2 separate regions of the Homo sapiens genome follow, and region 1 is linked to region 2. Evidence: fine-mapped expression QTL. A gene starts in region 2. The other region holds a variant in brackets. All regions are shown on one strand. Distances are from middle to middle. Region 1 overlaps PLEKHG5 (pleckstrin homology and RhoGEF domain containing G5). Region 2 holds the start of ESPN (espin).

Region 1 (4,372 bases), 45 kb before region 2:
CCAAGTGCAGTAAGGAAGCGCTTGCGCAGCGCCTGGCGCGGGCCGGCCCGCAGGGAGCGCGCGGTAACCGGCGCCGTGGTTGTTCTGCCCCGGGCCAGTTCGGCTCGCTCTTCAAGCCCTACATCCGCTACTGCATGGAGGAGGAGGGCTGCATGGAGTACATGCGCGGCCTGCTGCGCGACAACGACCTCTTCCGGGCCTACATCACGGTGAGGGCGCGCGTGCCGTGGGCGGGGGCGCAGGAGGACGGGACCCTGGACGGGGCCGGGTGGGGCGGGGCCTGCCCTGAGCCCGCCCCCACTCCCCCACCGCAGTGGGCGGAGAAGCACCCACAGTGCCAGAGGCTGAAGCTGAGCGACATGCTGGCCAAACCCCACCAGCGGCTCACCAAGTACCCGCTGCTGCTCAAGTCGGTGCTGAGGAAGACCGAGGAGCCGCGCGCCAAGGAGGCCGTCGTCGCCATGGTAACCCTGATGGCCAGCGGGAGCCGTCCCCCCTGCGCGGCTCTCTGCTCCGTCATGACCCTGGACCTGAAGCTCCCTCACCTGCCCCTAGATCGGCTCCGTGGAGCGCTTCATCCACCACGTGAACGCGTGCATGCGGCAGCGGCAGGAGCGGCAGCGGCTGGCGGCCGTGGTGAGCCGCATCGACGCCTACGAGGTGGTGGAAAGCAGCAGCGACGAAGTGGACAAGGTGGGCGTGTGTGTCTGCGGGGGTTGCCGGCTGGGAGAGAGGAAGGCCCAGCTGGCAGGCAGGGGCTGTGCTGGGCATCTCACTGAGGATGCCTAGCTGAGATGGGAGTCAGTCTCTGGCCTCCCCTACGTTCACGCCATCCGTCCCCAGCTCCTGAAGGAATTTCTGCACCTGGACTTGACAGCGCCCATCCCTGGCGCCTCCCCGGAGGAGACGCGGCAGCTGCTGCTGGAGGGGAGCCTGAGGATGAAGGAGGGGAAGGACAGCAAGGTGATTCCAGGGCCACCCCACCCCTGTGCCCTGCCCTTCCTAGGGACCTCCTGGGCCCCAGTCACTGGTTCTCAGCTCTGCAGTCCCTTCGGTGGTTACTCAAGAACCAGTGACCTTGTCATAGTGAATGACAGTTCTCTGCCTGCCATTCACAAATCCAGCAGTAGGGTCCTAGCCCTTGAAGGCACCAGTTGTGCCCATTTGTTGGTGCCACATGGGTTCCTGGTGGGAGGGCAGCCATATTCCACAAGTGGGCCAGGAACCCCAGAGCCTTGCTACTGTGCCATGGCCCCTTCAGGCATGGGGCAGGCTGAGAGCTTGCACACGGTGACTTCAAAGTCACCAGTCTTCTTTTTAATGTAAACTTGTATTGAGATAAGTCATCAACGTACATCTCAGTGAAAGAGAATCATCTTCCTCTTCATTTTAATTTTACTTGAAGGTTCATGGTGGGAGGAGTGTTTGACAAAAACCGAGTGCTCCCAGGGGAGGCTGGTGCCACAGTCCCTGGCCCTGACCCTGCTGGCCTCTCTGGCCACCCCCCCTCCTGCCACTGCAGATGGATGTGTACTGCTTCCTCTTCACGGATCTGCTGTTGGTGACCAAAGCAGTGAAGAAGGCAGAGAGGACCAGGGTCATCAGGCCACCCCTGCTCGTGGACAAGATTGTGTGCCGGGAGCTACGGGACCCTGGTAAGGAGCCCTGGTCCCCTGTTCCTGGTCAGGGGCTGTGATGGGTGGGGGCCATCGTCTCTGCTGACACTGACTTGGGCCTTCCCTAACCAGGGTCCTTCCTCCTTATCTACCTGAATGAGTTTCACAGTGCTGTAGGGGCCTACACGTTCCAGGCCAGTGGCCAGGCCTTGTGCCGTGGCTGGGTGGACACCATTTACAATGCCCAGGTGAGTGCAGAGTAGTGAGTGGGTGGGCAAGGCAGATTAGGGAGATGCTGGTCACAACCCATTCTGTCCCATGTACCCCAACCTTGCCTGCAGAACCAGCTGCAACAGCTGCGTGCACAGGAGCCCCCAGGCAGTCAGCAGCCCCTGCAGAGCCTGGAAGAGGAGGAGGATGAGCAGGAGGAGGAAGAGGAGGAGGAGGAGGAGGAGGAGGAAGGCGAGGACAGTGGCACTTCAGCTGCCAGCTCCCCTACCATCATGCGGAAAAGCAGCGGCAGCCCCGACTCTCAGCACTGGTACGTCTGCTCATGACCACCCAGCAGGTCAAACCAGGACAAGTACTCTAGCCCAGGACTCCTGAAGGCCCAGCCACGCTCCCTTCCTCCCAATGGCCTCTTGTCATGAACACTGTGGGAGCGGGGCTCTGTCTCCCCCAGAGTCCGGGTGGGGAGGGCAGACACCTTTCCATGTGCTGCCAGCCCTGATCCATTCGTGGTAGCTGCCTGGGGTGCTGTGCTGAGGATCCTTAGGGCAGATCCAGCCTTGGCAGGGAAGAGTGCTGGGCTCGCTACTGAGGTCTGTTGTGGGCACTGGAGCTGGAAGATCTGCCACACCTGCCACATGCTGCCATCTCTGAGCCTCCAGCCCCAGGAGGGCAGAGGGTATAAACCACCGTGCATTGCCCAGCCTGGGGCTGCCTCAGGCCATCTAGGTTTCATGGCCTGGGCTGACTCTGCTCCTGGCCCCACAGTGCCTCAGATGGCTCCACGGAGACCCTGGCCATGGTTGTGGTAGAGCCTGGGGACAC[G/A]CTGTCCTCCCCCGAGTTCGACAGCGGTCCTTTCAGCTCCCAGTCTGATGAGACCTCTCTCAGCACCACTGCCTCATCTGCCACGCCCACCAGTGAGCTGCTGCCCCTGGGTCCGGTGGACGGCCGCTCCTGCTCCATGGACTCTGCCTACGGCACCCTCTCCCCAACCTCCTTACAAGACTTTGTGGCCCCAGGCCCAATGGCAGAGCTAGTGCCTCGGGCCCCAGAGTCCCCACGAGTTCCTTCCCCTCCACCCTCGCCCCGTCTCCGCCGCCGCACCCCTGTCCAGCTGTTGAGCTGCCCGCCCCACCTGCTCAAGTCTAAGTCCGAGGCCAGCCTCCTCCAGCTGCTGGCAGGGGCTGGCACCCATGGGACACCCTCTGCCCCCAGCCGCAGCCTGTCAGAGCTCTGCCTGGCTGTTCCAGCCCCAGGTATTAGGACTCAGGGCTCCCCTCAGGAAGCTGGGCCCAGCTGGGATTGCCGAGGGGCCCCTAGCCCTGGCAGCGGTCCTGGGCTAGTCGGCTGCCTGGCCGGGGAACCTGCAGGCTCCCACAGGAAGAGGTGTGGAGACCTGCCCTCGGGGGCCTCTCCCAGGGTCCAGCCTGAGCCCCCACCAGGGGTCTCTGCCCAGCACAGGAAGCTGACCCTGGCCCAGCTCTACCGAATCAGGACCACCCTGCTGCTTAACTCCACGCTCACTGCCTCGTGAGTGGCCTGGACTGGGGTAGGGCAGGTGGCTCAGGGCACTGGCATGGGGGCCCACTCATGCCTGGGAGCATCGCATTTGGGGAGGGTCATGGCGGAGGGAGCCTGAACCCTGCCCAGTGTCTGGGCGCAGGGGGCTGTGGTGGGCAGCAGTGAAGGGGCCTGAGGAGTGCCGTGGGGAAGAGAGGGTGACCAGAGCCACTCTGAATGGCGTCAGCCAAAGAAGGACTCTGTCCCCTCCCCACCCTGTAGGGAGGTCTGAGCAGAGGGAGGCCCCCAAGAGTGCCATTGACCAAGAGACAGCAGACAGCCTGCCTCCTGGGGCGTGCCGGCACCTGCTTCAGCTACTGCCTCCTGTATGCATGAGCCGGATGCTGGGCAGGATCCCTGCCTACGCCCGGGCCCGATTTGCGCTTTGCCGGACTGGATGGAGTGGAGGAGGCCCAGGCCACAGTACCACCCCACCTGCCCAGGCAGCCCCTCGTCACCTACTCCCCGAAGTTACCAGCTCAGCTCGAGTCTTCAGGGCTGGGCTCCTAGGCTGCCCATCCTACTTCTACCCTCACTGGCCTCCAGTGGGATTCACTCCTGCCCTGCCCCCACCTTCCCAGTCCCACAGGCCACCCCTGGCTTGGGCTGGGTTCTGTGAAGTTACGTATTTATTGAGCTTTTGGTTCTTTTATAAAGACTTGTCTAGACTCCACTGGGAAGAGTCCTTTGCTTTGGGGCCCAGTGACTCGGGGCACTTGAGTTCAGGGCGGCCTCCTTGTGTTCCTGTGCTCCTCCACTTGCCACGGATGGGCCACGGATGGAGCTTGCCATGGGAAGCACTGGGAAGTAATGGGGTGTGGGGTGCCACCAGACCAACACCCCCAGACTTCCCCACCTTCAGCCACCATCAGAGCCTCTCCCCAGGTGCCCCCCGGGGATTCAGGGCTGAATCTGCCCAGTTCCCACACTCAGGCCAGCCCTCTTGGGAAGGTGGGTCCTCCATGGGG
Region 2 (4,372 bases):
CCTGCTTCTCCCAGCTCCTCTGCACTGGCCAGAGAGGCTTCTGGCCAGGGCTGGACACTGGATCTGGGAGGCATGCCACCGCCCAAAAGAGTGGGCATGGGCCACTTGGCCAGGAAGCCCTGGTAACAGGGCCCACTGAGAGATAGCAGGTGGGCCATCTCCCAGGAAGGGTGGGAAGAGGGGCTTGCTATCTGAAGGCAGAAGGTGGGGTTGGCCTGGCCATCTTTGGGGCATAGTAAGCCAGTTTAGAGTTACCCTGACTCCTCCCCTTCCATCTCCAGGTCACCCAGTGGTCTAAGTGGAAATCGGTTGTGGTTCCTCCCTCCCATGGCTGCCCCCACACCCAGAATTTCATCCAAATCCCTAACCTCGGCCTATGATACTCTCTGGCCTGGCCCTGGCAGCTTTTCCCTTCCTCACCCACTCTGAACATGATGCCTGAGGCTGGCCCTCCGACAGGACAAGAGCGTGCATGCCTCAGGGCTCTGCACTTCTTGTTCCCTGTGCCTGGAACTGTCCCACCGCTGCCTGGCTACCTGCTTCTCAGCAGCCAGGACTCCCCTTGGAGGTCACTGCTCAGAGTGACCAGGTGGGGTCTGGAGGCAGCAAGAATCAGCCTGGGTTGGAGAAGCAGCTGACAGCTTGACAGCACTGATGTCCTGGGGTCAGCCTGGGTTATGGGGAGACCCCCATTTACCACGGCTCATCACCCTTCCCCCACACCCTGGCTGGGACACCTGAATCTCAGCCTCGGGTGGGCTGTGGGACTTTGCCCAGCCTCCTTTCAGATCCGGTCCTGGAGGACACGGGCGTCTGACTCTGCTGCCCAGGCCTCACGTCCCACCCACTTCCAGGACTACAGGATCAGTGCTTTGCTTCTCCCGGTACACACTAGTAACCACAAGCCCCACGGAGGCCCCTCCCTTCTGGCTCCCATCACCCAGGTGCGCTTCCAGGGAGCACCCAGGCTCGCCAGGGCATCTGCCCCAGTACTGGCAAGCCAGGGAGCCCATTCACTTGAGGGCCTCTGGAAGGAGCTCCGTGCAGGGTTCAGCTGGGCCAGGAGGTGCCAAACCCCACCCATCCTTGAGCCCCGGGGGACTCTGGGCCAGGACTCTGTCCTGAGGAGGAAGCCTCAGTGCCCCTGGCGAACCGCGCGGACCCACCTGCACTCTGCAGCCGCCCTGCGACAGCAGCCACTGCAGGCAGGCGAGGTGGCCGGTGGCGGAGGCGTCGTGGGCCGGTGTGGCGCCGTTGCGGGCGCGGGCCGCGGCGGGGAGGGCGGCTTCCTCCACCAGGAAGCGCAGACAGTGCAGCTTCCCAGCGCGGGCCGCGTGGTGCACGGGCAGCGCGTCCAGCGGGTCGCGCAGCGAGGGCCCCAGGAGGCCTGCGGCGTGCAGCGACCTCAGCACGTCCAGCTCGCCCTGCCGCGCCGCCTGCAGCGCCTGCTCCAGGGCCATGGTGCCGCGTGCGGCGCCGCGACTCCGCACTCAGCGCCTTCCCCAGGACGCCATGCACGTGTTCTTGCGGGCCAGAGGAGCCCGCGGTGCGGCCGTCGGGGATCTGCGGGCCGGGAGGCGGAGCGGCTGTGGGCCTGGCCTCCGCTCCGCGCTGCCTGGCGCTCCGCTCCGCCGCGCTCTGGGGCCGGAGCCCGCGGACGCCGGCTTAAGACTCGGGCCCGCCCCCACCCCGCCCCGCCCCGCCCCGCAGCCTCCGCCCGAGTTCCCCGCCCGCCCCCGCCGCGACGCGGGGACACTCGTGCGACTGGGGCAAGGTGCCCAGGGGCTTCTCTCCTAATTTGCCTCACGTAACAGTTGAGACCCCAGAGGGCAGCAAAACTGGGTTCGAATTGGAGAGCCGTCCAGGCACAGACAAATTCATTCATCTGCCCAGTGCCCGCTAACTGCGGTTCCAGGCGCCGGCGACGCAATTCCAGAGGTGATGGGGAGTGATTGTCGGGACCGCGTGGGCGGACAGGGAAAGGTCTCTGAGGAGGTGCCGTGGGGCTGGGTTTGAGCGGCGAGAAGGGTATTCCAGGCGGGGTGAGGAGCACGAGGACAACGGCCCTGAGGCAGGAGCAGCCCTGCCACGTCCCTGAAGGGCTCTGGGTCGAAATCCCCGGAGATTGCAAAGAGCCCTGCCTTCCAGGGTCCCTCCAGATCCGAGAACTGCCCCCAGAGGTTCCAGCGGGGAGGGCAGGAAGGCAGGACGGGAACCACTAGTGCGCTGGGAACGCCATGGCCTCAGGCCGCCCGCAGCCGCTGTCGGTGTGGAGGGGCTTCCAGCCACACAGAAGGCAGGGATGGGTGGGAGGTTAGGGCTTGTGGGGAGACGCGGGAGCGCCGGCATCCAGAGAGAGGGGGCTGAGACCCCTGCAGGGGCTCAGGAAAGTGCCAGAGGGCGCGGGCAGGAGAGCGAATGTGTGCCAAGCCACCCTGCAGGCTCCACTGAACACCAGCCGTGGGAGCGGCTAGTGCCCAAAGGACGCGAGGAAAAGCTGACAGAAGGTGGGAGCTACATGGCTGTGGGAGTGCAGGCGGCCTATCAGCGATCTTGAAGCACCCTGTGCCCTTCCTGTCCCAACACCCACCCCCTCTGGAGTCCCGTGGGGGCTTGGCCCCACCCCGGGCTGAAGGTTTCACTCCGCCCCAGCCCCAGCCTGGCACAGTCAGCACTGGAAATGCTGTAGAATGAAGGAAGCCCCTTCCAGGAACAGTGGGAGTCATAGTGCTAAACTCATAGTGCTAAACTCGGCAGCTGCCTCCGGTCCTTTCCCTGGGCCTGCCACCTAGTGGCGACCTGCGTGATGGCCTCCCGCGCTCCCAGGTGCCCAGGTAACTGGAGCTGCTGGGCTGTGCCTAGCCAGGTGGGTTTCCAACGACTTCCACCAGGCCAGATCGCCCTCACTCTCTCCATGGGACCTGTGGCCGCTGGAATCTGGGACGCTTGCCCAGTGGTTTGCAGACAAAAGGAAGGAGGAGTCATTTCCTCGCAGCCTCGCTGCTGGAGCTGGTGGCCAAAGCAACAGGCTCACTGCGGCTGGCGCTGCCCTCCTCTGGGTGCCCAGAGGCAGGTGTGCCGTGAGGCCAGCAAGTGGCAGGGGTACTGTTGGGAGGAGGTGCTAAAATGGCTTGTCTTGGGCACCCCTCCCCTGGGCCTCCTCCATTCCAAAAGGCCCTGCAATTTGTGTTCTCCACTCCTAAGGTGGCCACCTTGGTCATGGACGAGCTCATCTAGCACATGGTTTTGTGATTTTGTGGGCCAGGGCTAGGTGATGCTTTATTGCTATTCCAGTGGGCTGAGCAGATGCCCCTGAGCCCCTGCCACTGTTGTTAATGACATCTCCATTAGTGCCACATGTGAGCACCCACCCCTGCTGACCAACCTCTCAGACTCCTTTCGGGACATGACTCAAACTCAGGCTGTGAGCCAGGCCCTTCCTGCCAGGCTTCTGTCCTCTCCGGGCTCTCCCATGTCCACCGGGCCAATTGGGTCCTCCCCAGCAGCCCTAGGGAGCTCACGGCAGCAGTAGCACTTTTATGAAATCTGTACCACCCACCAAGTGCTCACCATGCTTCACATGGATATTTAATCCAGAGGTGCTATGAGAGAGGTACAACTATTGTTCCCAGTTCACAGTCGGGGATAATGAGGCATGGAGAGATAGGGAGGGTTTTTTTTCTTTTTTTCTTTTTTTTTTTTTTGAGACAAGTCTTGCTCTGTCGCCCAGGCTGGAGTGCAGTGGCACAATCTCAGCTCACTGCAAGCTCCGCCTCCCAGGCTCACGCCATTTTTCTGCCTCAGCCTCCCGAGTAGCTGGGACTACAGGTGCCTGCCACCACGCCCAGCTAATTTTTTGTATTTTTAGTAGAGACGGGGTTTCATTGTGTTAGCCAGGATGGTCTCGATCTCCTGACCTCGTGATCTGCCCACCTTGGCCTCCCGAAGTGCTAGGATTACAGGCGTGAGCCACTGTGCCCGGCCTGTTTGTTTGTTTTTTGAGATGGAGTTTCACTCTTGTCACCCAGGCTGGATTGCAATGGCATAATCTAGGCTCACTGCAACTTCTGCCTCCCAGGTTCAAGTGATTCTCTTGCCTCAGCCTCCCAAGTAGCTGAGATTACAGGTGTCTGCCCGCCACCATGCCTAGCTAATTTTTTTATTTTTTGTATTTTTAGTAGAGATGGGGTTTCATCATGTTGGCCAGGCTGGTCTCGAATTCCTGACCTCAAGTAATCTGCCCACCTTGGTCTCTCAAAGTGCTGAGATTACAGGCATGAGCCACCACGCCCAGCCTTGTTTTGTTTTTTTAAAGCATTTTGCCTGAGATGACACAGATGGGAAGTGGCAAAGCTTTCACTCCCTGGCTGAG

The links. PIP is the estimated chance that this variant, and not a neighbour inherited with it, causes the effect.
Region 1: its variant is fine-mapped to the expression of ESPN in blood mononuclear cells (TOPMed, PIP 0.96).

What each region holds. Positions count from the first base shown.
Region 1 is chr1:6,466,827-6,471,198 of GRCh38, reverse strand. It overlaps PLEKHG5 (pleckstrin homology and RhoGEF domain containing G5), which reads left to right. Exons shown (of 21, transcript NM_020631.6): 13 at 99-209; 14 at 315-464; 15 at 556-693; 16 at 844-963; 17 at 1,523-1,655; 18 at 1,749-1,864; 19 at 1,958-2,157; 20 at 2,613-3,374; 21 at 3,627-4,077. The coding sequence ends at 3,636. Among named protein-coding and RNA genes, the nearest start is that of TNFRSF25, 2.8 kb to the right of the region's middle. RefSeq lists an enhancer at 4,257-4,372. The variant G/A (reference allele first, on the strand shown) is at 2,670.
Region 2 is chr1:6,422,044-6,426,415 of GRCh38, reverse strand. ESPN (espin) reads right to left here and starts at 1,640. Exons shown (of 13, transcript NM_031475.3): 1 at 1,167-1,640. The coding sequence starts at 1,460. RefSeq lists silencers at 1,461-1,510, 1,541-1,700 and enhancers at 1,697-2,310, 2,311-2,925.